Regions from separate parts of the Homo sapiens genome. Here regions 1, 2, 3, 4, 6 and 7 are each reported to be linked to region 5. Evidence: microRNA targets listed by miRTarBase, many of them from high-throughput screens and not tested one by one. Region 5 holds a microRNA gene; each other region holds the end of a gene's coding sequence. Distances are between the middles of the regions.
What was found. The annotated mature microRNA hsa-miR-196a-5p reads UAGGUAGUUUCAUGUUGUUGGG and lies in region 5 at 1,232-1,253, opposite strand. An mRNA with a match to its seed (bases 2 to 7 or 8) in the 3' UTR can be bound and repressed. Matches are read on the target gene's strand: a 7mer-m8 pairs with bases 2 to 8, a 7mer-A1 pairs with bases 2 to 7 and ends in A, and an 8mer does both.

Region 1 (4,000 bases), 4.8 Mb from region 5:
CCCTGCCCATCCAGCTTCCACTGGGTCGAGGGTGGGGTTGCCCTGGGTACTTGTGGATTGCCCTGGTACCAGCCTGTCTAGCTGCATAGGTAAGGCAGCCTAGTCAGACTTGAGGGAGCACTGGCTTGAGAGTCAGGCAGACCCTGTTTAGCCACTGACTGGCTATGTGACCTTTTTATACCTTCATTTTCTCTGCTATAAATGGGAAAGAATTAATCCTATCTTGCAGAGCTGTAGTGAAGATTATGTGGCATGCAAAGCATTTAGGGGTGTGATTGGCAGTTATTAAAGCTTATTTCCTCCCTTTCACTCACCATCTGTGGTTGATGGTGAGCCACTTTGAGGCACGCAGAGAGGGGCCCCTGCCTCCCTAGCCAGGGAGTCCACACCAGGGTTGGGCTTTGGGGAGGGGGAGTGGGGGCAGCTGTAGCTCCTTCTGACAGTGGGGGTGAGTTGTGGGCACTGACTGTAGGGAGGTCCCCTTGTGCCTGGGCAGGAGGCGGACCTGAGACGGACAGTGGAGGAGAGCAGCCGCATCCAGCGGGGCTACGGGCACTACTTTGACCTCTGCCTGGTCAATAGCAACCTGGAGAGGACCTTCCGCGAGCTCCAGACAGCCATGGAGAAGCTACGGACAGAGCCCCAGTGGGTGCCTGTCAGCTGGGTGTACTGAGCCTGTTCACCTGGTCTTTGGCTCACTCTGTGTTGAAACCCAGAACCTGAATCCATCCCCCTCCTGACCTGTGACCCCCTGCCACAATCCTTAGCCCCCATATCTGGCTGTCCTTGGGTAACAGCTCCCAGCAGGCCCTAAGTCTGGCTTCAGCACAGAGGCGTGCACTGCCAGGGAGGTGGGCATTCATGGGGTACCTTGTGCCCAGGTGCTGCCCACTCCTGATGCCCATTGGTCACCAGATATCTCTGAGGGCCAAGCTATGCCCAGGAATGTGTCAGAGTCACCTCCATAATGGTCAGTACAGAGAAGAGAAAAGCTGCTTTGGGACCACATGGTCAGTAGGCACACTGCCCCCTGCCACCCCTCCCCAGTCACCAGTTCTCCTCTGGACTGGCCACACCCACCCCATTCCTGGACTCCTCCCACCTCTCACCCCTGTGTCGGAGGAACAGGCCTTGGGCTGTTTCCGTGTGACCAGGGGAATGTGTGGCCCGCTGGCAGCCAGGCAGGCCCGGGTGGTGGTGCCAGCCTGGTGCCATCTTGAAGGCTGGAGGAGTCAGAGTGAGAGCTAGTGGCCACAGCTGCAGAGCACTGCAGCTCCCAGCTCCTTTGGAAAGGGACAGGGTCGCAGGGCAGATGCTGCTCGGTCCTTCCCTCATCCACAGCTTCTCACTGCCGAAGTTTCTCCAGATTTCTCCAATGTGTCCTGACAGGTCAGCCCTGCTCCCCACAGGGCCAGGCTGGCAGGGGCCAGTGGGCTCAGCCCAGGTAGGGGCAGGATGGAGGGCTGAGCCCTGTGACAACCTGCTGTTACCAACTGAAGAGCCCCAAGCTCTCCATGGCCCACAGCAGGCACAGGTCTGAGCTCTATGTCCTTGACCTTGGTCCATTTGGTTTTCTGTCTAGCCAGGTCCAGGTAGCCCACTTGCATCAGGGCTGCTGGGTTGGAGGGGCTAAGGAGGAGTGCAGAGGGGACCTTGGGAGCCTGGGCTTGAAGGACAGTTGCCCTCCAGGAGGTTCCTCACACACAACTCCAGAGGCGCCATTTACACTGTAGTCTGTACAACCTGTGGTTCCACGTGCATGTTCGGCACCTGTCTGTGCCTCTGGCACCAGGTTGTGTGTATGTGTGTGCGTGTGCACGTGCGTGTGTGTGTGTGTGTGTCAGGTTTAATTTGGGGAGGAAGCAAAGGGTTTTGTTTTGGAGGTCACTCTTTGGGGCCCCTTTCTGGGGGTTCCCCATCAGCCCTCATTTCTTATAATACCCTGATCCCAGACTCCAAAGCCCTGGTCCTTTCCTGATGTCTCCTCCCTTGTCTTATTGTCCCCCTACCCTAAATGCCCCCCTGCCATAACTTGGGGAGGGCAGTTTTGTAAAATAGGAGACTCCCTTTAAGAAAGAATGCTGTCCTAGATGTACTTGGGCATCTCATCCTTCATTATTCTCTGCATTCCTTCCGGGGGGAGCCTGTCCTCAGAGGGGACAACCTGTGACACCCTGAGTCCAAACCCTTGTGCCTCCCAGTTCTTCCAAGTGTCTAACTAGTCTTCGCTGCAGCGTCAGCCAAAGCTGGCCCCTGAACCACTGTGTGCCCATTTCCTAGGGAAGGGGAAGGAGAATAAACAGAATATTTATTACAAATGTTAGAATATATTTCTTATACTAGGAATCTCATTTGCATTTGCATAGACTATACACATGGGGTGGAAAGGCCAGGCCTGCCCCCATCTCGTTGGTGTGGCTCTGCGTATACTACACACTCATTCTCCTGCTCCTCTTTTCCCTTAGTCAGTGTCCTTTCATCCTGATTCAGCTCTGCCTTGCATCACCCTCAGCCTAAGGGAGTGGGAAGGAAATGGGGTGTTTTCTTGCTGACCTGAGGCTATAGGGTCACTTGCCATTTCCTACCTTCTCTGGGGGATTTGAGGGTAGAGGCAGGGGAAGATCTGTTGTTGCAGCTGCTTCTGCCCCCTTGATCCAAATGACCATCATCTCTGATGGAGATGGGTTGGGTACCTGGCCTTCATGGCACCTTCACTGCTAGGGATGCTCAAGGGGCAGGCCTGGGGCCCTTCCCTCCTGTCTCTTCTCGGTCTTTCCTCTCTGAGCAGCCTCCTACCTCCCCTGCCTGAGCCCTCACTCCACAGCCCTCCCAGGTACCTAGCAGAGGCTGTCAGTCCTTGGCTCACCTGGAACAGGGCTGGGGCTGGGTTGGAACAGGTGTGTGCCCCCACCACAGCTCTATGACTCTGTTCTCCCTCCCTGCCATTGTGGACTCTTGTATTTGAGGGACCTCAAGAGAGTGAGGACCCTACCATCCACTGTCCATATTCAGTCCCAGCCCCAGTGCGCTTCCTCTGTTCCCTCCCTCAGCCATCCAATTCTTGAGTTTTCTCACTGATTGGTTTTCTTTCTTTTTCCTTGGATTAAATGTGAAAGCAAAGGCTTCTGGCTCTGCTTTTCTTTGGTTGGGGTTGGATGGATGGCTTTGGGAGAGAGTGAGAGCTGGGGAGCACAGCACAGATGACTACTAGAATGGAAGTCAGAGCAACATGTCTTGTTTTCTGCGATGTCTTCCTTTCCTCTGTCTTGCCCCTGCACACTCCCCCATCCCCAGAAGATGCTCCTTCTAAGTGCTTGTACCCAAGGACATGAACAGACATTTCTCAAAAGAAGACATACAAGTGACAATGTATGAAAAAGTGCTTTACGTCACTAATCATCAGAGAAATGCAAACCAAAACTACCATGAGTTACCATCTCACACCAGTCAGAATGGCTATTAAAAGGTCAAAAAATAAGAGATGCTGGTGAAGTTGCAGACAAGAGGGAGTGCTTATACACTATTGGTGGGAACGTACATTAGTTCAGCCCCCGTGGAAAGCTGTTTGGGGAGTTCTCATAGAACTACCATTCATTCCAGCAATCCCATCACTGGGCATCTACCCAAAGGAGAAGAAATCGTTCCACCAAAAAGATACCTGCACTTGTGTGACTGTCACTATGGGACTGAATGAAGGAGGATGTACGCCACTTGTGACAGTTACTACAGGACCGAACAAAAGAGGACAAATGCAGAAATGAAAACAAGACAAAAGAATCTGCTTTAAAGAAGGGGTCCTTGCTTTTGCTTCTAGTGAGCAAGGGCCCTGAGCTTCCACAGCCCTCCATATTTATTGGGTAGAAAGAGCAGGGAGGAGCAGGTAACCTTTGGTCAGCTGCTTGATTTATCACAGGTTCACATAATTGCTGACAGGCTTCATGTGTGCCTGTAGATAATCACAAACACTGCGCCTGAGGTGTGACTGCCCTCAGCATTCCTT
Region 2 (4,595 bases), not on the chromosome of region 5:
GTATAGTGGCGCAGGCCTGTAATTCCAACTACTGGGGAGGCTGAAGCATGGAGGTTGCAGTGAGCCGAGTTCATGCCCCTGCATTCCAGCTTGGCCTACATACTGGGCGAGACTCTGTCAAAAAAAAGGAAAACAAATCATGTCAGATGCAATCAGAAGTCAGCCTATCATTGGGAGTTTCATGTGTGTATGTGCATGCTCTTGATATCAAATGTGAAACCACTAAATTATCATATGCAGGAAAAGAATATACTGTGAATTCCATTAAAATAAAATATAATATTTACTCAGATATTTGTTGATTAAGTCAATGGACTGTTTTTAAAACTAAAAGCTTTTTTCCTCGATAGGTTACCACTAATGTCACCTGGGGCATTCAGCCAGCGCCCATGCCTGTGCCTGTGTGGGTGATCATTTTAGCAGTTCTAGCAGGATTGTTGCTACTGGCTGTTTTGGTATTTGTAATGTACAGGGTAAGTAACGGACTTAGAAAGAAGGAGAGAGGGAAAGCAGAAGAAAAGGGAAAGGGAAGAAGGAAAAGAAGAATGAAAAGTAAGGGAAGGAAGAAAGGGACTGTAATGATGATACTTGATGAGCATTACTTATTATATGAGGGAAGATAAATTTTATGAAATACAATTTAAATGTTCTTAGTGGTAATATAGTCACCCAAAAAATACTTTTCGTATTCTACACTGATGTGACAGTAATAATGGTTTTTCTTCAACTGACAGATGGGCTTTTTTAAACGGGTCCGGCCACCTCAAGAAGAACAAGAAAGGGAGCAGCTTCAACCTCATGAAAATGGTGAAGGAAACTCAGAAACTTAACTGCAGTTTTTAAGTTATGCTACATCTTGACCCACTAGAATTAGCAACTTTATTATAGATTTAAACTTTCTTCATGAGGAGTAAAAATCCAAGGCTTTACTGCTGATAGTGCTAATTGGCATTAACCACAAAATGAGAATTATATTTGTCAACCTTCTCCTTATAAATAAGTTCAGACATACATTTAATAACATAGGGTGACTTGTGTTTTTAGGTATTTAAATAATAAAATTTCAAGGGATAGTTTTTATTCAATGTATATAAGACAGGTAGTGCCTGATTTACTACTTTATATAAAATAGTACCTCCTTCAGTTACTGTTTCTGATTTAATGTACGGAACTTTATTTGTTGTTGTTGTTGTTGTTGTTGTTGTTGTTTTAAAGCAGTCCAAATTTGGACCTTAGCAATCATGTCTTTTGTATAGGTACTTAATGTTAATACATATTACACTACAGTTTACTTTTCAGAATACTAAAGACTTTATAACTGCATGAACTTGGATTTTTTTAATCACTCATATGGTAGAATTTTATAAACACATACATGATACCATCCAAATTCTTGCTTTTAATAACAAAGGTACAATATTTTGTTTTAGTATGAAAATCTGGTAGATCCTATTACACTTCTGTTTATATTAAATCCACAATATTTTATTACATTTTTAACTTGTATAAATTTTAGGTCAAATCCTTCAAGCCAACCTATACTAAAAATTAGTTCCATAATCACAAATGGCTCTTTTGTGTAATTGTTTAATTTCACCTGAATATCATAATGCTTAAAGCCATATGGAGTTGGAAATTATTTCCAAAGCATATTTATTCCATTGTTTTAGTCTGGCTATTTACAGTATAAAAAAAGCATTTTTATTAAAATACTGTGTAGTTCTTTGAGATAGTTGCTTATGCATATAGTAAGTATTACATTCTTAGAGTAGAGCAGAGTTTTTAGTTAGTATTAATTTATTTTCCTCCATTCATGTACTTTTCCTTATATTTCCAAAACTGTTACTGAGAATGGGTCAAGATCAGTGAGAAATCTTTACAGTTGACAGGAACCTGGACCCCTTACCCCAACTTTATGAGTAATGCTTGGAATAAAAACTCTTAAGGCAACTCACTGATTTACTTCTAGCAATAGCATGATGTTACAGGAATATTACCTCTGTTTAAGCAAGGTAATGTGTAAAATCAGTCTCGGCTGTCAGAATAACTTCTAAAAGGTATTTTTATAAGCAGTTCAAGTTACTGAAAACCTTTTAAACCTTTCTGAAGTTCGTTAGTATAAATTACTTTTCTAGGATTATTAATAAAAGCCACATAGGTGGCAAGTTGTAGTTTTATATGGCTCTGTAGAGTGGTGAACCTTCTAGAGGAATATATGATTTATTCACAGTTCCTCAAGGCCTGGGGATGATGATCAGTTATACCTATTTTTGTGCAATTACATCATGTTGTACATTAGAAATGGAGAGTTTAATAGCTCTTTAACTGCTGTCCTCATTAGGTAATGATAAATATTTCCCTTAAATAATTGACTATTTTGCTGTGTTTTAAAAATGATTGAAATTTATCTTGCCATATCTCATAATTTCATGCACAAGTTGACTGAGCTAATCTTGAGAATATATTCGTAAAATAGGAGCACATTTAGTTGAGGTATACAAGGTAGGACTCTAGACAAAACCTTCTATTTTAGCTTTAGTGAATTTCAAAAGTAATGGGTCTTGGAGTATAGATTTTTATTAGTAGCTTGAAAGAGCTTAATCATATGCAGTAAGTATTTTTATTACCAATAAATTTAAAATTTTTTAAGAAAAATATTTTTATCCTAGGGCCAAGTGTTGCCTGCCACCAATCAGTAAGTTAGTCTATAACAAATTTTACCCTAACAGTTTTACCACCTAGTAACAGTCATTTCTGAAAATATGTTGGATAGAAAGTCACTCTTTGGCAAAAGTGTTAGAATTTGCTTTTGTGCCATCTATTCCTTTTATGGCATCTATCTTGAAAGTAATCTTGTATTGGAGATTGAAAGATGCTGTAATTTAGAAATTAACATGATATCTTAAATTACCTTTATGAAATATAGTTTTGTATAATAGCATAGATTTTCCTTCAAAAAATGAACATTTATATATCTACAAAAATATGGAGAAGAGTAATTTGAAAGCCTACTTTCTGAAGAAAATGGTGGGATTTTTTTTTATCATGATTAAATATCAAAAAATTGCCCTATGAAAACTTTAAATCTCTAAAACATTTGAAATACTACCATATTTGTGATTTATTGAGAATAAAAATCCATTTTGAAATGTAAAATTTTTATGATCTGATTCAGTTTTAAGAAAACATGAATGAACTAGAAGATATTAAAAACATTTGACATTGGTAAGAAATATTGATACTGATATTGATTTTTATATAGGTATTTATTTCAGAATTGATATTTTGAGAAAAATACATGTGAGTCATTTTTTCTGTTTCTCTTTTCTCTTAACGATTATCACTGTAATTCTGAATCTGAAAGGTAAAACAATTAGTCAAAATATTATTGCCATCATTCTACCTGTGTTATGAAACTACTTATTCATAGTTAATTCTCATTAACACTTACATTTCCATAAAGAAAACTCAAGTATTAATAAAAGAGACTTTACTGGCTTAAGAGGGCTGTGAAAGATTTTTGATAGTGAATCATGACCCTAAGGGAGAGATTTGTGTGATAAAAGTATTGTATATAATAGATCAGCGATTTTTGTAAGGCAAACAGAATTTGTAAGTTGGCAGATCTTCCTAAGTTGCAAAATGTAATGATGAGCTTGGTGGAGAAGAATGAGTCGTTCTTGGAATACCTATGTGCAGCCACTACCCATCTCAATGTCACCTTGTTTGCATTCTTGGATAGCTTGTATATGTAGTAGTTTGATGAATAATTTAAAGAAAAACACCTAAAATTTGAAAAATGATTGTAGGATCAAAAAAGGCAGATGAAATTACTTAATACTCAGTGTTTTGGAGAGTATTCCTTTTAGTTTGTTGGTTGGCTGGTTTGAACGATAGAAATATGCAGCATGCAATATATGCTTATATTTCATTTTAATTTCTGATATATAATGAACTTCTTGGGAGAGGTACTGAATCTTTGATGTTTTTTGTCATTGTTCTCAAGTGCAATATAACAATGTAACCAAATCTAGATAATTTCAAAGTTGTCATTAATTTAGTAAGCCTAATATAAACAAATATTTGTATTATTTTTGTTAGCAGGAAAGAGTGATTAAGTGAGGTTATTTACCCCTAAATGGTCCATTCTGCATTGTATTTCAGGCTGGAAATGAATTATTCTTTACCAGTTTTGAAACACTTTGAAATATCCTAAGGTAACTTGGAAGCTGTGTAGTATATCAAATTAATTTGCTACCTAATAACATAGAAAGTAAATATCTTTGTGGTCACCCACATTGGGTGAGACAGAAAATGAATCTGTTCTAAAATTTGTAATTTGCTAACTTGATTTGAGTTAGTGAAAACTGGTACAGTGTTCTGCTTGATTTACAACATGTAACTTGTGACTGTACAATAAACATAAGCATATGGTACCACTTTTGTGTATGGGGTTTATCCTTTCTGTGACGTGTTTTTGTTTTTTGATTACATGAGCTAGCAATAATGCACTAAAAGGATGACCTCAGAGGTAACTTTCTGTAAAACTTCAAATCTTGAATGTCAGTTATTTGATGAAAAGAAACACAAAAAGA
Region 3 (4,595 bases), 13 Mb from region 5:
CGTTAAAAAGAAAAGCAATTGGACCATATTAAATGTCACTGCTAAACAACAACTTTAAAACGCCCCTTCATAAAGTGACCAAGCTATTTTGAGAGGGTTGATGCTGACATGTCCAGTAATGACGTTACAATTTGTAGCTTAAACTCAATAACTTTAAGGTCCACATATCCAGTTTACTTTGAAAACTAAAGATGTTTTAAAACTTCATGAATACATCAACCTGAGGAGTATTTTAGGTCCCAAATCCAGTTTTTAAATTTATACTCCACAAAAAAGAAAATACATACATAAAAATTTAAACCACAGTTCTGGGCCCATTAAAACACCAAAAAAGACCCCCCAAAAAGTTAAGATTTCCAGCTTATTTCTGGAGGGGTGGGACAAAATAAGAATGTATATTAAAAACATTTTTCCTTAATTCAGACAAACTAAAATCTTAAGAGGAAACCCAGACCAAAATATCACTCATGCAACATTAAGTGTATTAACTGATTGATATGCAATGCCATAGTGGATGAATAGCAAATTATATGATGCAATAGCATTTAAAAACTTTTTAATCTATTCAATTTGAACATTTTAAATAATGCAACATAGTATTCTGATATTACAGTATTAACATAGTGCTTGATTAAAGATCTGCAAATCTTTGTAGTAACACATTAAGTTAAAAAATTACCTCAGAAGGTAAATATGAAGACGAAAGGAGAATATTTTAATACAGTAATCTGTGCCATACTGACAATTGAGTACGAATACAGCTGAGGATAGTTGACTAAGTAGTAAGAGCTTAATTTTAGTGGTTTAAGAAAAGTTTAGAAATATTTAAAAATTACAGCTACTTTAAAATTTAAGGATTACATATAAGTACACTTGGTGGCCTTCTGGCCAAACAATAAGGTGTACAGAAATTTATTCATACAGTGTTAATTCACAGTCCTGATAACTCAATGGCTTGCATAAGAAAGGTATGGCTAGATGTTTCTCACTGGCTGGAAGCAGACATTATATAACTAATCTTTTTAAATGACAAAATACTGAACTTCCACCCTGCTTAATAATCATGGATACCTGCACAAAAAAAAAGATGTTAGCACTGTAACAAAGAAGTCAAGGTGTTGGTAATCCACTGCTATAAAGTATAATATTTTGCTTACCTATTTAAACAAAACTACCCATATTTGTCTGTGACAGTACATTAGTAAGTCAAATCCATCATCCTGCACAAGGCTTAATTTCTCAAATAAGTCTACTGAGCTTTTCTAATGGTTATTTAATAACTTTCCATTGAGTTTGAATGGATATATGAAGGGAAGAAAAAAAATCTTATCAATAAATCCTGTATATTTGGGAACTATTCCCTGATTCCCAAATAAAAAATAATTGTGTACTGGGTTCCCTCCTTATGGCTCCATATTAAATAACCTGTCAGGGAATAATTTTAAATCTACTTTCAAATTGAGGTGTGGTTATCATAGGTTAGTGATTTTAAACAACTGAGAATATAACTTTTATTTTGTAAAGTCACTATTAAGTGTATAAAAAGGATACTCTTTTTATGGAAATTCCAAATAAGCACATTTTCCTTCAAATCTCAGACAAGTTTTTTTTTTTTTTTTAAAGAAAGTACAGAACAAAACATACCAACATAATGTGTGGTGTATTAGCATAATTTAAAAACAAATGCAGAGAGGTGATCTTTAAATTTAATATCAAAATATGCTGACCATTAGAACTGCATTATAATTTTGAAGAAATGATTGACAACCTTTGTCACCAATTGTGTTTGCTTCATAGAAAAAACAAGACTTGCTAATGTTTTCATATACACAATCTGAAGAAGTTATGTTGTTCATAAGAAAGTGATATTTAATTCTAAGCACAGAGTATTCACAAAAACAAGTTTCAGTAAAAAAAAAAACTAAAACAAACACTGAAGTAGAGTTTTGTAAATACAACTGATTTTGTCCTTGTAGATAATTAGTGAACGTACAAATAGAAATTTTGCTAGACTGCTTCCAAGAAAGCTAGGTAGACTCGGCGACTGTGAATTCAAGTCAGCAATGCAGGTAGGAGGCGAACTTGGGCTCTTTTGTGAGCAGCACTGTAGAAAGGATTTTTCAAGGGGGTACAGCCTGCATAAAAGCAGTTATCTTGGCATGTGCAAACAAGAAGGGGGAAAGTTGTATTGAAGGAGGGGTGAATTAAAGTCCCTAAAATTCAAGTCCCTTCTTTAGGGAGGTGAGAACCTCCTTGGCATATGCCCTACCTTAATCTGAGCTGTGTTATAGAAAAGTACAGACTCTGGTGTTTGGGACTGACATCTCCAAACCAAGAAAATTAAATAAATAAAAAAGGCAAGGGAAGTTTAAAAAATGGTTCTTTCACTAGTGGAATAGAGTCTGAATACCAGAATTCACTGAGAATCTATTTACACCACAGTTTGATTGCGCGCACACACACACACCCATACATATGCATACTCTCACATACATTCCCAATCTTTAATTTAAAAAAAAAAGTCAAACAATCAAGAATGACTGCTTGAAAAATAATTTGTAAAATGCCTAGAGCTGGGCTAAATTTCAACCTTATAGCAGATCCTGAAAATAAATTTCATAATAATATTTCCATGCCTAAATATGCCACTGTTAAAACTGAAAAAAATTTAAGCATGTAACATTAAACACTAAAATTAGTTTAAGCATTCAGTAGCAAATGGTTTTTCTTGTAAAACTAAGTTTCTTTCACCGGAAATGGCCTGAAATATTAGTCATAGCCCTAAACCATAGTACAAAATATAACTGAAGAATTCTCATTTTATTCTAAGTTAAACCACCTAACAATACCACTTGTATATTGCCATCATGTTATTCTGTAAAGATGTGATATATAAAATGCTGTAAGACCTGGTACCTTTTCAATTTATAAACACAGTGAACTTCATTACTGTACATGTACTCTGCAACTACAGCTTAGCTGTAAATCCTCCACACACAATGGTATGGACATTATTCCCCCTCTATCCCCGTTAAACTGTACATCGAGACAATACAAATTTACTGTCCCACCCACCCCCTTACAAAAAAATAATACTCTAAAAGCAACCCTACTGCAACTTTTTAATTAAGACGATTACATATATTTTAGACCAATTGCTTTAAAGCAAGAAGGCAGTATAAACCTTCTAGGAAAATTTTTATAAAAGAGGTTAAGAAATATAAGACAATTTATACATTTAAAAACTTACAATAAATAAGAGAAGAGATGCAGGCATTTTTGAATACTAGATACTATAATCCATACAAGAACATCTTCATGTTCTGAAGCCATATGTTGAAATTCATTGTTCCTCATGTTTCCTCTCCATGCTTTTAATATTCATTTAACATGACTGGGTACTATGGCTCATTACTTTTCACAAATACTGTGACTGGAAAAAAAAAAGGTTAATTTTGCTACGAAAATGTTATAATACGTTTTGTATGATCAGTCATCATCCTAAAGAGTTCAATAGAGTCAATGAAAAATAGCAGGGTTATAGCCCCTCCCCCCAAGTCAAAACAATATTTGTTGAAGTAATAAGAATTAGACCCCATCACAAATGACCTTCACTGAGAAGATAATTGTAACTTAATCCTGCAGCGAAACATCCATTTTTCCTTGTTCTTTTCTTGCACAGTTCCATCAAATGAAGATCACAGCATATTCATAATAAAGTTATATAACTGATTCAGCACCACAAAATGAATTGGGAGACATGAGCGTCTGTCCTGGGTTGCAGGGTCACAGGTTAGCCAGGAGAGTGCATTGTACTGTTCCAAAACAAACCTGAAAAGCAAATAAACTGCATAAGTCATTTATTTATTTCCAACCTAGATTTTGGAAGCAGTTTTCAATTATGGCATTTAAGACTCAAAGTCACCTTAAAAAAGAGTGTAACAGAGAGTCCTTGAGGGGAAAGAAGCAATTTCCATAAAAATTATTCTCAAAAGTAGATTACTCAAGTTAGAATAGCAGTGTTTATCTAGAGATCCACTGGTACACAACTGTAAATTCTTGCCAAAAATGAGAAAAATATATAAGAATCAACATTATATTCTTTTAAAGTTGCAGTGACAAACTGTTAATGGTAAAAGAGTTGTACCTGAGGACATCTGAAGTCTGATTTGAGTCAAGTGGGTGGGAGTGTTTACTGTGAAGCAGCTCGTCAGATTGCACTGAAGGCACGTGGAGGTGCAAAGAGGCCTAAGAAGGTAACAGGTAATCAATCAGTCAGCCAAACAGAAAATAATCTGCTATTTAGTTTTACCTTATTCTCCCAATATATCTTATAAAATGATGAAATACATTTTAGTCCTATGTTATGAATGAAAGCCACTATAAAAATGCTTGTTCTCTTTTAACTAATTCATTATAGAAATGTTTTTTTTTTTTTTTTTAAGTAGGGGCAGGTTCTTGTTCTGTTGACCAGGCTGGTCTTGAACTCCTGGCCTCAAACAATCCTCCTGCCTTGGCCTCCCAAAGTGCTGGGATTACACGCATGAGCCACTGTGCCTAGCCAGAAGTGATTTTTAAGTGCAAAACTTACTTTG
Region 4 (4,595 bases), 18 Mb from region 5:
CTTTTGAGTCAATTCATAAATACAGAAACATTCCATAGGTGATACCCTGTATTCTGATCCTGGTACTATTTTTCCACTAGCATAGGCAGAAAAACTAAATAATTTTCAAACTGGACCTATAACTTTTTCCGGCATATTGCATCTGAAAAAAGATTATGAGACAAAACACAAAGAAAGACAAACATCGTAAAATAACTTTTATACAGGATTAGTAGATCTGTTTACATATAAAAAACAGAAAGGACCTCATTACAGTTAGATTTCACATAAATTACAAATTGACTTTTAAAAACTACTATTCAACTTCATTTAAAGTCCCTTTTAAAAATTTCATTTTGAAGGCACAGTGCATGAAATAAACCAAAGACTGAAGCACTTGAGATGAATGGGTGTTGGGCACCTCACATAAACAGCTGTAGATTGCTCTAGAACTGGGAGTATCACTTGGAAAAACTGGAGAGGTGAAAAGCTGATTTTTAATCTGAGCATAAAAAAATACTATTGTCATACCTCCAGAAAATCTGTAGCATGGCCAGCATAGAAGGTAGTTAGTACACTCATGTTATGCCATTTATAAAAATCATAATCATACATATTTACATAATTTATATCCAACTGCCTCAAAATGGTAACCTACTTTCAAATTTCATAATGTATGCTGTCAAATCAAAATCAACCAGGACAATATTCTGAAAATCAAGTGGAATCATTAACGAATTATTGCTAAAAATAGGATAAATGGGTATTGGGAGAGATTTCTTCATGAACTAGAAATCCAAGTTCAGCTGACATTAATCAAAGACCCAAATCATATCCCCAAAATTTTAGCTAAAACAAATCAGAAACCCAAAGAGTTACCAAAAAAGTTGCTATAGAAAATCACTGAACATCAATCATAGTGGAATTTTTGGTAATAACAATAAAACAAAAATATATTGGAAATCCTGGGTTGTCACTGTTAAAACAATTCCACCAGAAAACCATAATGTAGGGCACTATTACAGAATTCATTGCCAAGAAGCTTTTCATACAGCAGGGACAATACCTGGCACAAGTGCATTTCTGGCAACAACAAGATAAAACTATTTAATGTTGAGAATAAATGGAAATGGAGGAGCAGGTCATGGTTACTGAGTAACCTGGTGTTAGCTCAAACACAATAAGCTCAGACATAAACACTACCTTTTATTTATTTGTCAACTCATAATTAGTTTTAAATTCAATAGTCATTAATTCAGCAAATCCCATTCAAGTAAAAGTTACCAAAGATAAAGCAATCAATCACACTGGGCCAAATATACAATATGTTTCCTTTCTGGAAGATGACAAAGTCCCAAAGCAAATCCCTTCAATGAGCATTGCAAGCATTCCTCAACTGGATAGGATCCCACTCACTACCCAAGTGTTCAGCAAAATGCATCAAAACTGAAGGGTCTTTCTTTCTGAAATGACTTGGGCACATCTTACTGAACTACATAATCAATACAAGTACATGTACACAGGCAGACACTTTGAACATTACCTACTCAATCACTTTGCTTTTATTAAGGAGCTGGGAAGGAAGAAGGCTTACAAACTGATCACCAGGACAAAGCCCATGCCTTGTGAGTAAAGAAAGGCACAACTCAGATTTAGGCAAATTTCTTAATACTATGATACTTACTTGCCGCCATAACTCCAAGGAAATGGAAAGTCTCTCGGAGAAACACTGAAGAAATGCATTCCCCATCCCATATGGCTTCAATGCCTTAAGCGGTTAATATATTCTAATATTAGATTAGACCCGCAAATAAAAGACAGGGCAGGGCTGAGAATATAGTCTTAGTAGTCAGGTATCCTATACATTCACGCTTCTAGGTAATACAAGCTGGGAAAGTCTTGTTTTCCAGCTAAATGCATTATTTAAAAGTTCATTGAAGATCAAGACTTATAGCAGAATTTGGTTTTTCTTTCAGGAAATATTACTAAAATAACTATGTGTATGTTCATTTCTTTAAAAATTTTACACATGCTTAAAAGGCATGGCCTCCAGCCACTGAGATGTACAGTTAAAGACATATTTGATCCAAGAGAGAAGTACATGTAAAAGGTATCCTCTAGTGAAGACCAATGATAACAAAGCAAAGCTTGTCACATTAACTTTGTTTCACTTGCTGTAATGTCCCAAGCAGGGGCAGCCACTCTTAGGCCCCTTGTTGGTTTCCTGACTGTACTCTTAAAAATAAAGCTGAAAAAGAGCAATACACCACCATCCTTAAAGAAAACATAAAGATTATTAGAAATTAAATCATGTATACTTCACTAACTATTAGCATCCCACAAGCTCTGTTCCATGTATGAGGTGGCAGAATTTACAGTTGCTAATACCAGAATACCAGAATGGCTTAACCTTGAACCACGGATTTATCACAGATACTTATTAACAAATGACATGACCTCATTATTCTTGCTAAAGAAAATCTTCTTTTATAAAGCCACTTTGAATGCATTCCTCACAAAACCTGGTTGAACGACCTAGGAAGGTGGTAAACCCCTCCACCTGAAGGCTTTGGGATAACTGATACATTAATGGATATAGAATACAATTTGAGAAGATAAGAGCAAGTTTTTTGGTCCCCTGATTTAGTATAAGTTCAGCAGCAACTTGGTTATTAAAACATTCAAAGGTATTAAACCGTTACATCATTGGTAAGATGCATACTTACAAAAAGCATCATTTCCATTGCATGATAAGACAGACATAATAAAATGCAAATCTTTCCGGTCTTTGCCTGATTGGCAGTGAAGATGACACTTTCACACCACAGTGTTTTATCACTCAGCAGTCATAGTTTACATTTTTTTTCAAGGGAGGAAGCTATACTTAAAAGCTTTCGACTGAACTTTTAGAAAAATTGGTTGATCAAAAAGAGACCGTCAAATGAAACATTAGGGCAAAGAACCAAATCACTCCCAGAGGCCTATGTGAACAAGACCGGTCAAGCGATTTCAATAATAGTATGCTATTACAGGGTATAGGCTTGGGCTGGAGCATGAAGTATAGATATTTTGTGTTCAAATACAGGTTAAGAATGTGCAAGTAGGTCTCTTCCACATTTCTAGATATTTTCAGTAGAATTCAGATCTTGTAGATGGCTGGGTCATCTGAAAACCATGTGTGCAACATAGAAAAAGGTTCCGATTTAGGCAATATTAAAGAATCAGGCATTCCTAGAATAAGCTAGTGCTTCACAGATATAAGCAGCAGCACCTGTGGGTTTTTACCAAGTTCAAAGATAGACAACATGAGTTTTAGCTTTTGCTAGATCTCTCTCTCAGCTTCATTCAAGTGGGCATTTAGACCTTTCACAATAAAGTTAGTAAGTTCTCCCTTAAAATGGGCTATTTAGAAGTTTGCTAAACCTTAAGAGAGGTAGTGAAATCCTGCTTACAGCGTAGTCTACCAGTTCCGATCTAGCCTTGGAACAGGTAGAAAGCCAAATGCAGAAGCCCATTTATTCATTTCCTACTGTTATATGTGTTTAAAAATCAATTCAACCTCCATTAAACCTGAATAAGAAAAACTCCAGCTATTTAACAACTAGAGAAAAGTACTCCTCAGTAGGTTGAAAAAACCTTGAGTTTTTAAAGCTTTATGTCGATTCTGACTGCTGTCCCTGCCTTAATGTTTCTGGATTCTTTTGGCCATTTAAAACAAAGAAAAATACTAAAGCCACTAGTAAACATCTGATGTGCAAAATACAACATCCTCTAGTTGGCTTTATGCCATTATTACATAAGCTCCAAATAGCTCATCTTAAATTAAAAAGAAAAAGTGGCTGTCCCATCTCTGCTGCATAAATCAGATTTTTTTTTAAAGGTTTAGAGTACTTTAAGGAAGGGAAGTTCAAAACTGCCAGTGAAATTCACAGAGAATACAAATTTAGCAATTTAATTTCCCAAAGCTCTTTGAAGAAGCAAGAGAGTCTCTCTTCTTAATGCAGTGTTCTCCCAAGAGGAACTGTAATTTTGCTTGGTACTTATGCTGGGAGATATGCAAAATGTGTTTTTCAATGTTTGCTAGAATATAATGTTTCCTCTTCAGTGTCTGTTTCATCCTGGAACTCATGGCTTAGGAGGGACTTCTTGGAGCCGGTAGACATCATGCGAATTTCATCTTCATACTCATCATGATGCTGCCTGAGCCGATGAAAGCCATCCTTGTGTCTATTAGACTTGATTGAGCAGATGCACCAAATAATGCAAGCTGTTAGGATCAATGCCGACATAGTAGCACCTGACAAACAAAAACCATCATGTGGGTGATATTATACTTTAAGGATATTAATAAGCAGCCGCTTACAATGGAACTTTTAATAATATACCCCTCATTTATTTTATTTCTATTTCATGCACTTAAGAACAACCTTTATTATTATAGAAGCAGTATATGTACAATATACAAAGTTTAAAAATACAGATAAGCAAACTAACAAAAGCCAAAACCAAAAAACCTCCTATATTTACATTTCCATTACCCAGAGATCATTTTTAGTTATAAGATCTTTTGTGTGTGTGTGTAATCCTCCCACCTCAGCCTCCCAAGTAGTACCACA
Region 5 (4,000 bases):
CACCCAGACCAGAGGATGAGAAACTGTCAAGGGACAGAGTTGTTAGCCTTTGCTTATCAGGACAGTGGGTTGAAGGCTCCATTTCCCCTAGGCTAGGGGTGGGTCTCCCTAATGCCCCTCTGCTCTAGCAGAAGCCCCTTGTTCAGAGACCCCCTGGCCCTCCAAGTCAGCCTGGCGCCGAAGCCCCATCCGGTCGGGCCTCTTTCCCGGGCCCCTTTGCACATTTCCTCTGCCTCAAGCAGCAGGGGGAAGGTTTGGGAACAAAAGTTAGCTTATGCTTTGGAAAGTCCCCCTTCTTCCACCAGCACTTCTAGTTATTCCTTTCCTGGGCACAGGGCCAACAGCCTTAAGAGGACCGAGGTCAGAGAGGGTATCAGAGTCTTGCCCTGCCCAACCCCTGGTTTCATCCCTTGTCACTGCATCAGTCGGGGTTGAATTGTCCAACAACCTGGGCTCCCCATTAGCTTGCAAGTCAGGCCCCTCTCCAAGGAGGTGGCACTCAGGACCTATGTGTACCCCCAGCCCAGCCCAAGGCCAGTGGGAAGCCTTTGGCCACTGGGGTGGGTGGGGAGGAAAAAGTCAACTGAGGGATTAGGAAAGGAAGGACTTTTCGGACCTACTTCTGTAGGTCTGGTCCCATAGGGGGCCTTCGACAGGACCCTGAGGGCTTTAGGCTGAGATTGCAAGAGCTCTCAGTGTTTGCCTTTCAGAATGAGACCTACTGAGCCCTCTTCAAGGACCTGAAGCTTCCTGCTGAGGTGGAGCACCAGCCCGCAAAGAGTTACAAAAACCTCAAGAACCCCCTGCATTTCTTTTGAAATCAAATATTTGTGAAGTTGGGGAGAGTTTCTCTGGAAAGTTCTGGATGTAGTTGAGAGCTCAGAGACCCTAAGGCTGGAAGTTGGAGCTCTGACTGCCATCTTTGGGTTGGGCTGAACAGCCCAACAGGGCCAGGGAGGTGCCTCGGGAGAGTTGACTGCTCCTCATCCCCCTTCCCCTCCTAACACACACACAAAAAAACATTCAGAAGTGGGAAGACACTTCCCAGATCTCTTCTCTGGGGGAACATCCTTGTTGCTCCTGGATGAAGGACCTCAAACCTCTTCCCCATTTTGCAAGGTTGATCTTCCAGTCCTGATTCTGCTCCCCTCCCCCAACTCCTCCAGCTAAGCAAGGAGCAGTAACTGCCGTGAATCGGGTGGTTTAATGTTGTTGTGTTCAGAAACCCAGGCCCAACAACATGAAACTACCTAATTCACTCAGCAGTTCCAATTCAAGCTCTAGGTCAAGAGCTCACTGGGGGCAAACCCTGTGGCCATTTTTTTGTGGGCCAAAAAGCGGCTTAACTTCATTTTGCTCCACCTCTTCCCCAACAGAAGAACCCAGTTGCTACTAAACAACACATCGGAAGAACTGAACCCAGGACTCTAGGTAAAACCATTTTGGAGCCGGTCCTGATAGCTCAGATTCCAGAGACATTTGCTGCCTTCCAGGAGCCCTGGCCAGAGAAGAAGACCCTAGACACAGGCACAAGCCTGGGCAGGGCCTCTTTGATATACCTGCTCAGTCTCTGCCTCTCAGCCCAGCTGGAGGTCTCCACAGATAAAAAGAATTCTCAACTTCAAACAGATACGAAGGTGCATCTATACTCAGCACCCTGCTAGCCCCTGTATTCCAGGTCACCCAGCCTCCCAGTGTAGCTCTGAGAGGCCAGATCTTCAAGTCCTACACACCCCCCAGCTTTGAGATTGGGGCTCAGACAGGAGAGTGAGACAAAAGAGTGCTGAGAAAGAAAGTGACAGAGAGAAAGGTGGAAAAGCAGAGTGTCAGAAAGTTTCGGGAATTCTAGGGAACAAACAGAGGAAGAATGGGATTTGGAGGGGAAAGCCGGTTGATCTGAACAGTTGCTGTGAAGGCACCCTGCCCAAAATGTCCCAGGGCCCTGGCTCTGCAGAGGCCGAGCTGCCCCAGGTAAGACAATTCATTCCGAATCTTCGCAGAATAAGGACTGAGAGGCTAAGGACTGGGATTGGGACACAGAGAACAAATTTGCTTCCTCCTTCCTGACCTTCGGTCTGGGTCCTTGGCCCCCTAACGTGCCCGCTCCTCACCTCTGCCTCTCCAGACACCCGCCTGCTCACAGGTGCTCACGCTCACACCCGCACCCATCGCAAAAACGCAGCTGTGCAGGCCGAGGGCGGCGGCGGACTTACCTGGGCGGCGGCGGTGCCGGCAGTGCGCGGCCGTCGGAAGGTGCGGAGCCAGCGGCCGCGGCCCAGTCCAGGCTCCCTCCCGCCCTCGCCCAGAAGCGAGGGTCCGAGTGGCCACGTGTCCGGCAGGGAAGTCCGAGGTAGCGAGGGAGTCCACCTGGCCGCCCGCTCCCCCTCCCGGGTATAAATCTTGGGGACCGGAAATACAATAAAACTTCACCGTGTTGATGAACTTCAAACGGTTTACATCCCCTCCTGTCCTGAAAAGAAAGACGTCCGGGGGCGGATTAAAAGGAAGGGGAAACAAATTTACGAGCGGCAGAAGCACCCGCCTCGGCCCCTTTCTTTGCCCGCACACTTTGTCCGCGTGGAGAGAAGCAGCCCCAGCCCCCGGGACTTGGCCTCCGCCGAACCGGCCGCCAGGCGCGCTCTTCTCTCGGAGGAGTCGGCGCTGACCCAGCCCGCGCCCGGCAGAGACTGGAAGCCGCCGCCTACACGGAAAATCCACAGAGCCCCGCGCAGACCCTATGATCGGCTCGGCCCGCCGGGCTTGGGATGAGGCTCCCTGCTTCTCGCTAGAGCAGAACTGGGCTCCCTGGCGCTTCCTTGCGAAAGCCCAGGCTCTCCCAACCACGCCCGGTGGCCTCCATTTTTTGCATCTTTCCGCTGAAAGCGGGTTTTTTCTTTTTTCTTTTTTTTTGACAGAGTCCTGCTGTGTCACCCAGGCTGGAGTGCAGTGGCGCGATCTCGGCTCACTGCAACCTCCGCCTCCCGGTTCAAGCGATTCTCCTGCCTCAGCCTCCCGAGTAGCTGGAACTACAGGCGCCCGCCACCACGCCCGGCTAATTTTTGTATTTTTAGTAGAGACGGGGTTTCACAATATTGGCCAAGCTGATCTTGAACTCCTGACCTCGTGATCCACCCTCCTCGGCCTCCCAAAGTGCTGGGATTACAGGCGTAAGCCACCGCGCCCGACCCAAGGGTTTTTTGTTTTTGTTTTTTGTTTAACTTTACTTTTCTCTTTCCTTTTCCGTTTCTAGCGGCCAGACCTTTGCCCAGCCCTGCCCGTTTATTGCCGGGTACTTGCTGGAAGGGGACAGAAGATAAGACTCGGGGTGACTCCCAAGGCCTGAAGGGGGCTGATTGGGCCGGGGGCTCCCAGAGGATAAACCTAGGGGCCGGTCGGTCTTCCTCGGCGTGGAAGTGAGAGCCACGCGGCGTGGCGGAGCTCCACCACCGTCTCCTTATCTCTTTAAAGCCTCAAAATCAAACAAAACCACTACTACCCAGGCCTCAAGTTTCCACAGTTTTTGTCTGCTCTGGACCGTTTACTTTTTTTGAAAAAAGAGAACTTGGTGGAATCCAAATTCTCTACTAGGCCTCCGAACCAAAACGAAGGAAAATCCGTTTTCTTCTTGGGCTTCAGAGAACTGGGATCGAAGTGATTGACTTCCTGCTCCTTTTGTCTGCTCCAGGGGCCTGGTTAGGTGCCCTTCTGGATGGGAGAGCAAAAGGTTCTCCATCCTGCCTCACAGTTATTCACCTCCAAAACAGTTTTGAGACACAATGGATGGCTAAGATTAGCTCAGGCTCAGGCAGAGTGTTCAGGTACAGGAGTGAGGTCCAGCTGCAGGCCCAAGAGGGGGTTTAGTGCACTGAAGGCACCCACCTTCCCATAGATACACACATAGATAACCCCACTCCCCAACCCCAAGAAAAGGCACCAAAGTGCTGCTGGATATTTTAAAAATCTGATTAAAAAATAAACGGGCAGGGAAAATACTAGGCAG
Region 6 (4,595 bases), not on the chromosome of region 5:
GAGCCTCTCTTTCAAGCCCAAAGAGCGTTCTGATAAGACCCTCATTAACCATAGGTTCGTGAGCTCGGCATGAAGGAGGAACTAATTTTGGCTAAACAGATCTTTATGGTCCTCAGTGTGATGCTCTGTCAGTAGGTGGGTACATTGGCCTCCATTTGGCTGATGGAGCAATTAAGGCTGGGAAAGATTAGGTTCTCGCCCAAGGTCAGCCTAGGTAGTTAGGAGTGGTGCTGGCTCTTTCCTCTACACCATACTAAAAGGACTGGGAGATCATTTAATAAGAGGCCACCAAGCCATCCTCACCCCAATCCTGACCGGGGATGTAGATTTAATGCCACGGCCCATACTTCCTGCCTTGATCTTTCCAACCTGGCAGAAGGGCAGTGGGACTCCAGGTAAGCCGTGGGCAAAGAACCCCAAAAGCAATAAAACAATCTGCTGTTTGGTTTTGCTTTTAACTCCCCTTGTATCCAAGCCTTTGCTCAGATTGTCCTCTCAGTTCAAACACTCTTCCCTGCCACCTCTAATTCCTGCATTTCTACTTTTTAAAGTATCAACTAGGCATCACCTCTTCTAGGATGTGTTCCCAGGGCCCTTGCCCATGCTTCTGAGCTCCCATAGCATCCTGGGACTAGTTGAATTCTTATACTCACCACATGGCTTTATAACCTATCAACATGTCAGATTTCTTGACTTAACTGCAAGTTCCAAGCACAGGATCGACCTGAATTCAGAACCACTGTGGGCTTGTTTGGGAATCTGACAAAGGTGGCTATTGCATAGGGCCTTGGGATCAGAAAGTGGGGAGAGGACGGCCAATGAGGAAGATTAATGCTATGGTTCAAAGAGGATGATGCTTGGACCTGGGTCGAGCCAAGCTTCTGAGGCTTGAGCAAAGACAGCAGCTTAGAGTTCACTCCTGAGGACGGCTGGACTCCAGCCAGCCAGACGCACAGATCCCTTCGCCTCTACACTCTCTAACAGGGCTCTCCAGACTCGAAAGCCACAGTGAGAAGCCCTAAGAGAATAGAGCTTCAAAGGGCCTCATCCCAGGCCTCTCGAACATCCTCTTCCTCTCAGTCACTGGTGCATTCTGGAACCAGCAATCACAAGAATCATAGCTTCTACCACTGTTTTTCAGAAGTGGGAGGAAAAACTGCAAAATCCAGGATGGGCATCTTGCCTTCATGGTAGCTCGGTGGCAGGAAAACAGAACCATGGAAGGCCTGCACCGTGGGTGGGGAGCACTGGCACAACAGTGAGGGCAGTGATGAGGCCATGCAGCCAGATGCCACCTCGGCAGGGTGGCCTAGGGCAAGCAGGGGACTTCCTTAAGGAGGCTTATTCCCACAGCCACCACAGAGAAGGCTACTTCCTCCAACCCTGCTACTCCTATGTAAACAAGGACTGCCCAGGCACCTGCTTCAACCCCAAACCAAAGCAACAGGAGCCAGATGCTCCATTTGCCCCCACTGGCCCCGCCCCCAGGATTTGCCCCTTTCTTTTTCTTTCCAGATCGTGACCCAATGTTCACTAGCCACTCCACCTTGCCTTTATTCATCGTACCCCTTGGGACCCACAGCTGCAAAGCAGGATGGCGGGGGCTCCCCATTTACTGAATCACAATGCCCACCTTCTGAAACCACCAAAAAGTCCCAAAGGGGAGGAGAGAAAAAGAGAGACGGGAGAGAAAAAGAGAGACGGGAGACAGAAGCCCTGACACAGGTTTTTCAGTATGCAAGTGTTTTTGACTCCACAGCCAGTTGCTTAAAATGAAACATAAAGGGCAGCCAGAATATACACCCAAATGCGAAAAAAGGAAAGGCAAACAGAACATGAAATAAACTACACAATACCAGGAACCCCAACAAAACCAACAAATTAAAGTCCAAAACCCCTCAACTTTATATATATATATGTATATATATATGTATTTTTTTTTCTTAAAAAGGGAAAACAACTGTTCAAAACCAACTGGGCAGTATGGTGGGGGTGGGGAGCAGTCCTACAGAAGGGGGCCGAGAACTTCCCCCCCAGGAACAAAGAACAAACACAATACAAAGAAAATAACCACCAATGCTCCCGCATGGCTCAGGAGCCTCTAGAGAACAGATTGTCCCATCCTCAAACTGGCTTTTTTTTTTTCCTTTTTTTTTTAATCTTTTTTTTTTCCATTTTCTTTTTTGTTGTTGTTGTTTTAGCACCTGTACAATAAAACTGTACCATCTCCAACCAGAGCCGGCCACGGCGAGGCCCTCCTGCCTTTGGATGGTACATACTCTACAAGGATTGTTCGGAAAAATAGCAATTGGTAGAAAAATAAGAGTGGGAGGGACAATGCCACAGAGGGGGCGGGGACAGGGAAGCAACCCAAGCTCCTCTCTCTCTCTCACTCGACAAACCCAGCGCTGGAGGCCCAGAGGCCAGGGGGAGGCCAGGTAGGGATACCACTCAGCCCCAGGCCCCCAGGCATGAGTGGAGCAAGGGCTGGAGACCACTTTCCTGCCCTTGCCTAGGAAACAGCTGACGCCTGGATTTCACATCCGGCAGTGAGTCCCAGAGCCCTCTGCAGATTCCCAAGGAGAATGAGGGGCTGAGGGAGGAGGTGGGAGGAGAGGAAGGAAAGGGGTGCTGTGAGTCTCAGAAGGGGCAGGGATGGGGGTGGCTGAGGGCTGGGAGGTGAGAGGCTCAGTATCTTGAGACAGGGAGGCCAGAACGGGGTGGGAGAGTGGAGGCAGGAACAAACTCGTATTGTGCACTCTGAGGGGGGCAGTGAAGAAGGCGTGAGGAGGGGGGCCACCCTCACCCCTCAGATCCCTTCTCCACGCTCCTTTATTAGAGTAACTTATTAACCCCTCACCTCACAATCCTCCCCTCCCTGTCAACACTAATCTCAAGATAGCGGGGCTGCTGCAAAGGGCGGGAATGGGTGGGTGGGGGAGCACCAAAGCCTCAGGATTTACCCCCAAGCCCCCAGCCCTGGGCCAGCAGCAACCAGCTTCGTTAGTCACAAGTCCATGTTCCCCCACCCCATTCCACCTCACCCCCTCCCCAGTGGGGGAAAAAAACACCAGGGAATAGCTTTGTCAGAGCTCATCAACAAAGAAAAAGAAAAGGAGGTACAGAAAGTCCCTCAATACAACAAGTTGTCTCAAATCGTCACAGTGATACAGACTTATCAGAAACCAATGAAACAATACAAATTAAATACTAATAAAATAAATACTACAGAAGACAGAAGAACACAGGGGAATGGAGTTGGGGGGCGCTCAGAGATCTGGGATTTTCTCATTTCTCCTCGGGACAGGCCAAGGCCATCCAGGGCCCAGGTTTGGTCTTGGTCATGAACAAGGAGGCCAGTCCAAGGGACCCCGGCGCCACCTCCCACCACCCCCGGGACCTCTTGTCCTCAGACATGGAGTTCAACTTTCCACCCCCATCAGCAACCACGATAACAATGACGACGACAGGGAGATGAGAACTAATTGTAACCAAAAAAACAAAAACAGTCCAGTCGCTAATGCTGGCATTGATAAGGCGGCTTCTTGTTGGTCCGTATTATTGCCTCATTCTGCAGTCTGGTGCTCGGTCGGGGAAAGACAAGGAGGTGGGGGAAGGGCGAACTCGGAAGGAGAAAGAAGAGGAGGGGCTGTTTTCCCGGTCAACTGTTGCAAGACTGGAATTCCACCTCGGACCCTAGGAGCCGAAGTAGGTCTGGCTCGTACCGCACCAGCTCCACAGTCTCAGAGGAGCCTGGGGGGGATCTGTCGTCCAAGCCTCCAGGCCTCTCGGCAGGGGTCAGCAGCTGACTGGAGGCCACCTGCCTGTAGAACTCGGCCTTGGGCATGGTGGTGATTTCAAAGTGCGGGAACCGGGCCTGAAAGATCCTCGAGGAAAGCTTCAGCCTCTTCAAGACATCGGAAAAGAGGAACCAGTTGCAGGGCCTGCAAAGGCAAGGATGGGAGTTATTGAAGGAGGCTGGAGGAAGCGGTGGGGGCACCGACCCAGAACACTCTGCAAAGCCCACAAAGGCTGCACGACCATCAATGTCTCCCATTATAACTCACTGCCAGTCTGGCTCCCCCGTCCCCTGCTAAACCACAGGCTCCTTGGGTATAGCTGAGGCAAATGTCTTCTCCTGTCCCCTGCAATGCCTGGCCCGGCTTTCAGCTAAATGGTGAGCACGCAATCAGTGACCACCTCTTCCAAAATAACACAAACAGGAGGCAAAGGGGCATTCTAGAACCTAAAACTCTTAGCAGGCTTCTTGGGGACTTAGCCTGCGCCCCTGTGACCTGGCATTTGCCATCTGCTGGGACCAGTCTTTCCTCCGACTCCCGCCCCTGCCAACCCTGGCTGCCTTCCCTTCTCCTGTTCTTACTCTTGCTTCCCTGGCCTCCTTGCTCTCCAAGATCTTCCCCAGCAGAGGGGGAGCCGTGGAGAAAGGCCTAAACTGCGGGTAATCCAAAAGGCATTTCTCTTTGGCTCTGGAATGCATTAGACAAGTTTTTTCTCCAGCAGCAGCACCATCGTTTCTGCAGGGCCAGAGCTCACATTACAGAAAGTGGAGTCTGACTTTGCTGAGCACACCCGAC
Region 7 (4,595 bases), not on the chromosome of region 5:
CCAGACTGGCCAATATGGTGAAACCCCACCTGTACTAAAAATACAAAATTAGCTGGGCGTGGTGGCGCATGCCTGTAGTCCCAGCTGCTTGGGAGGCTGAGGCACGAAAATTTCTTGAACCTGGGAGGCAGAGGTTACAGTAAGCCAGGATCGCACCATTGCACTCCAGCCTGGGCAACAGAGCAAGACTCTGTCTCAAAAATAGATAAATAAATAAATAAAAGTTTCTCGTGTATTTTCTAATCCCCACAAAGAAACTGTAAGCTCCCAGAGAGAAGGAGGTGGGCCTGTGATTCCTCTGTCGCTCCCTTAGGGCTCCAGGTGGAGCTGACTGGCTGCTTTTGGGAGATGGGCTGGGCACGACTTCTCTGCCTGGGAGTATTGAAAAGATAGACTCTGGGCTCATGGGGTTGGCGCAGGCAGCTGGGAGAGCTGAGGCAGCCAGAGACCACAAACGGCACCGTGAGCTGGGTGGAGCTGGCCTTGTGGGAAGGAAGCAAGGCCTGCTGTTAAGGGTCTCTCTGAGCTTTTCCACATTTCCAATTTCCCATGGATAATCCATCATGTTCATCTGTACTTTTTGTCTCCATATCATGTGGACAGGTTCTAACATTCCCATGGACCAGCCCTGCTGTCGTGGTCTCTATGACTTTGAGCCAGAAAACCAAGGAGAATTAGGATTTAAAGAAGGGGACATCATTACATTAACCAATCAAATAGATGAAAACTGGTATGAAGGAATGATACACGGAGAATCGGGATTCTTCCCCATTAATTACGTGGAAGTGATCGTGCCTTTACCTCAGTAAATGTGTAACACAAACTCTGGACATACTTTCGTAACTGAAATGAATTCACACCAGTGTGCTCTCAGTGCGGTGTTCTGTGACATCCTTTGCTCTCTGACCAACTTAATGACTTTTGTATGTGTGCTCTCTTTATAATGTATTTTATATCACTTTAATTTGTATAAATGATTTTCTTGTCCTTGCTACATGAAAATATTTTCTTTTTTGCTTCCTGTCCTAAAAGTCATTGGTTAAATGTATTTGCTTCCTGTGGCTAAAAATAAGTCTCACCCATTGCAGTTATGTCAACGAATGGCCTATATTCCTCAGCTGCAATGAAATGGTAACATTTGAAACTAAGAAATGCTAAATATTTTGTTTCTCGACATTCCTGATGACGTCTGGTCTTTTCTTTTCATTGTATTTTAAGCTTACCTGTGAATAGCCCAATAAACATGACACACTGTGTTGGCAAAAGGCCTTGGTTATTTTTAATGTTGAATTGTTGATTTTTAAGCACAGTCTTCCAGCTGCAAACTCACACCCCATGGCCAACCGAAGTGTCACAGCGCAGATGCTTAGATGATGCCTCCTGATGGGAGCCTTCGCTTTCCACCTGATTCAAACATGACACGAATCCTCCTTCCAGCTGGGGGATGGAAAGCCCTTCTACTTACCTTCAAGTTTATTTATAAAAGACCCCAAATCAAGCTTCTGCTGCTGCCATATTTTGGATAGGTTTTTCAGAAAGTTGTGTTATGGGTGCTCAGGAAGTAGTGTGGTCAAGAGTTGATTGAGTCCCCAATAACATCCTCTTAGGCTCAGTGAACCAGCCCCTGGCCTTGCCTACAGTACGCACTAGTTACATGCTTTGGCCCACTGGAGTCTACAATCCTATTATGTGAAGGGGCAGGTATTATTTCCCATTTGAAAAGAAGGAGCCTCATTGACTGACTTACCTAGGATCAAACGACCACATACAGACACACCTCAGAGATATTGCAGGTTCTGTTCCTGGCTACTTACTGCAATAAAGCAAATATTGCAATAAAACAAGTCACACAAATTCTGGGGGTTTCCCAGTGTATAGAAAAGTTGTGCTTACACATAGACACGAGGAGGGGAACAACACACACTGGGGCCTGTTGCTGGGGGAGGGGAGGAGGGAGAGCATCAGGAACATAGCTAATGCGTGTCGGGCTTAATACCTAGGCGATGGGTTGGTAGGTGCAGCAAATCACAATGGCACACATTTACCTATGTAACAAACCTGCACATCCTGCACATGTACCCTGGTACTTAAGAAGAGTTGTGTTTACACTATGCTGTAGTCTATTAAATGGGTAGGAGCATATGTCTTAAAAAAACAAACTACACACCTTAATTTAAAATACTTTACTACTAAAAAATGCTAATGATTATCTGAGCCTTCAGCAAGGGGTAATATTTTTGCTGCTGGAAGTTCTTGATATTGATAGCCACTGACTGATCAGGGTGGGGTTGCTGAAGGTTGGGGTGTCTGTGGCAATTTCTTAAAATAAGACAACACTGAAGTTTGCTGTATGGGTTGACTCTTCCTTTCACAAAAGATTTCTCTGTCACATGCAATGCTGCTTGATAGCATTTTACACACAGAACTTCTTTCAAAATTTGAGTCAGTCCTCTCATCCTACCACTGCTTTATCAAGTTTATGTAATATTCTAAATCCTTTGTTGCCATTACAATAATGTTCACAGCATCTTCACCAAGAGTAGATTCTATCTCAAGAAATCATTTTCTTTGTTCAACTGTAAGAAGCAATTCCTCATCTATTCAAGCTTTTTTACGAGATTGCAGGAATTCAGTCACATCTTCAGTCTCCACTTCTAATTCTAGTTCTCCTGTTATTTCCACCACATCTGCAATTACTTTCTCCACTGAAGTCTTAAGCCCTTCAAAGTCATCCAAGAGGGTTGAAATCAACTTATTCTAAACTCCTGTTAATGTTGATATTTTGACTTCCTCCCATGAATCACAAATGTTCTTAAAGGCATCTAGAATACTGAGTCCTTTCCAGAAGGTTTTCACTTTACTTTGCCCAGATCCATCAATAGAATCACTAGTTATGGTAGCTGTAGCCTTACAAGATGTATTTCTTGAGTAATAGACTTGAAAATAGAAATTACTTCTTGATCCATGGGCTGAAGAATGGATGTTATGTTAGTAGGCATGAAAACAACATTCATCTCCTTGCATATCTCTATCAGAGCTCCTGGATGACAAGGTGCATTGTTAGCAGAGATATTGTGAAAGGAATCTTTTTCTCTGAACGGTAGATCTCAACAGTAGGCTTAAAATATTTAGTAAGCCATGCTATAAACAGACATACTGTCATCCAGGCTTTGTTCCATTTATAGAGCACAAGCAGAGCAGATTTAGCATCATTCTTAAGGACCCTAAAATTTTTGGAATGGTCAGTGCGCATTGGCTTCAATTTAAAGTCACTAGTTGTATTAACGCCTAACAGGTTAATCTGTCCTTTGAAGCATTGAAGCCAGAGATTGACTTCTCTAACTAGGAAAGTCACAGATGACATCTTCCCATGTAAGGCTATAGTTTACATTGAAAATCTGTTGTTTAGTTTAGCCAGCTTCATCAATAATCTTAGCTAGATCTTCTGGATAACTTACTTCTCCATCAGCACCTGCTGCTTCACCTTGCACATTTATGTTATGGAGGTGGCTTCTTAAACCTCATGAACCCACCCCTGCTAGCCTCAGACTTTTCTTAATGCAGCTTTCTCACCTCTCTCAACTCTGGATTAGGCTTTGGCTTCAGGTAATGCAGCTGGTTGATCATCAGACCACTCAAACTTTCTTCATATCAGCAAGAAATCTGCTTCACTTTCTTATCATTCATGTATTCACTGGAGCAGCACTTTTAATTTCCTTCAAGGACTTTTTCTTTGCATTCACGACTTAGCTAACTGAGGCAAGAGGCCTAACTTTCAGCCTACCCTGGCTTTCAATAAGCCTCCCTCACTAAGCTTAATCATTTCTAGCTTCTGATTTAAAGTGAGAGACCTGTGACTCTTCTTTCACTTGAACACTTAGAGGCCATTGTAGGGTTACTAATTGGCCTAATTTCAATATTGTTGTATCTCAGGAAATAGGGAAGCCTGAGGGGGGAATGGCCAGGCAGTGGAGCAGTCAAAACACACACAACATTTATCAGTCAGGTTCACCATCTTATATAGGCATTGTTTGTGGTGCCCCAAAACAGTTAAAATAGTAACATCAAAGATCACTGATCACAGATTAACATAACCGATATGATAATGAAAAAGTTTAATATATTGTAAGAATTACCAAAGTGTGACAGAGACAGAAAGCACATGCTGTTGAAAAAATAACGCCGATAAAAACGGTTACCGCAAACCTTCGAAGAGTTTACAAACCTTTCTAAAAATCACTATACCTGTGAAGTGCAATGAAAAGACGTAACCCTGTTGTGGCAGAGGCAGAGTTTGAAATCAGATTGCTGTACCTCACTGCACACTTAAGTGTTCACCCAAGTCACTTGGAAAGGCACTGCTGATCACTGACTTTTGTAACAAATGCCCGGAAGCCAGACTGATCACCTAAATCAGGTAACCTAAGCCAGGTTCCCCAGTCTTCTGATTCCACGGTACATCACTAAATTCACAACAATATGTTTTCCCTCCAGCCAGCTATACACACACACACACACCACTTCTCCAGAACAGTTTTACATTCAGTGTCTGTAATCAAATAATGATAATAATAATGGCTAACTCTTGTGTGCTT

Region 1: miRTarBase lists MPP2 as a target of hsa-miR-196a-5p. The part of its 3' UTR that is shown has no 7-base or 8-base seed match.
Region 2: the mRNA of ITGAV is a reported target of hsa-miR-196a-5p. Seed matches in the 3' UTR shown: 7mer-A1 at 4,255-4,261.
Region 3: miRTarBase lists MED13 as a target of hsa-miR-196a-5p. Seed matches in the 3' UTR shown: 7mer-A1 at 2,029-2,035.
Region 4: the mRNA of CPD is a reported target of hsa-miR-196a-5p. Seed matches in the 3' UTR shown: 7mer-m8 at 3,411-3,417 and 7mer-m8 at 543-549.
Region 6: miRTarBase lists BCORL1 as a target of hsa-miR-196a-5p. The part of its 3' UTR that is shown has no 7-base or 8-base seed match.
Region 7: miRTarBase lists SH3GL3 as a target of hsa-miR-196a-5p. The part of its 3' UTR that is shown has no 7-base or 8-base seed match.

What each region holds. Positions count from the first base shown.
Region 1 is chr17:43,874,480-43,878,479 of GRCh38, reverse strand. It overlaps MPP2 (MAGUK p55 scaffold protein 2), which reads left to right. Exons shown (of 13, transcript NM_005374.5): 13 at 497-3,120. The coding sequence ends at 673. Among named protein-coding and RNA genes, the nearest start is that of CD300LG, 29 kb to the right of the region's middle.
Region 2 is chr2:186,676,463-186,681,057 of GRCh38, forward strand. ITGAV (integrin subunit alpha V) reads left to right here. Exons shown (of 30, transcript NM_002210.5): 29 at 351-473; 30 at 735-4,439. The coding sequence ends at 830. Among named protein-coding and RNA genes, the nearest start is that of FAM171B, 15 kb to the right of the region's middle.
Region 3 is chr17:61,942,770-61,947,364 of GRCh38, forward strand. MED13 (mediator complex subunit 13) reads right to left here. Exons shown (of 30, transcript NM_005121.3): 29 at 4,148-4,248; 30 at 1-3,831. The coding sequence ends at 3,699. Among named protein-coding and RNA genes, the nearest start is that of INTS2, 17 kb to the left of the region's middle.
Region 4 is chr17:30,464,269-30,468,863 of GRCh38, reverse strand. CPD (carboxypeptidase D) reads right to left here. Exons shown (of 21, transcript NM_001304.5): 21 at 1-4,276. The coding sequence ends at 4,050. Among named protein-coding and RNA genes, the nearest start is that of GOSR1, 11 kb to the left of the region's middle.
Region 5 is chr17:48,631,301-48,635,300 of GRCh38, forward strand. MIR196A1 (microRNA 196a-1) reads right to left here and starts at 1,259; the gene lies at 1,190-1,259. It overlaps HOXB-AS4 (HOXB cluster antisense RNA 4), which reads left to right. Exons shown (of 2, transcript NR_046611.1): 2 at 3,251-3,632. It overlaps LINC03057 (long intergenic non-protein coding RNA 3057), which reads right to left. Exons shown (of 2, transcript NR_186590.1): 2 at 3,504-4,000.
Region 6 is chrX:130,055,203-130,059,797 of GRCh38, reverse strand. It overlaps BCORL1 (BCL6 corepressor like 1), which reads right to left. Exons shown (of 14, transcript NM_001379451.1): 14 at 1,727-3,944. The coding sequence ends at 3,662. Among named protein-coding and RNA genes, the nearest start is that of ELF4, 53 kb to the left of the region's middle.
Region 7 is chr15:83,617,479-83,622,073 of GRCh38, forward strand. SH3GL3 (SH3 domain containing GRB2 like 3, endophilin A3) reads left to right here. Exons shown (of 9, transcript NM_003027.5): 9 at 604-1,265. The coding sequence ends at 809. Among named protein-coding and RNA genes, the nearest start is that of ADAMTSL3, 34 kb to the right of the region's middle.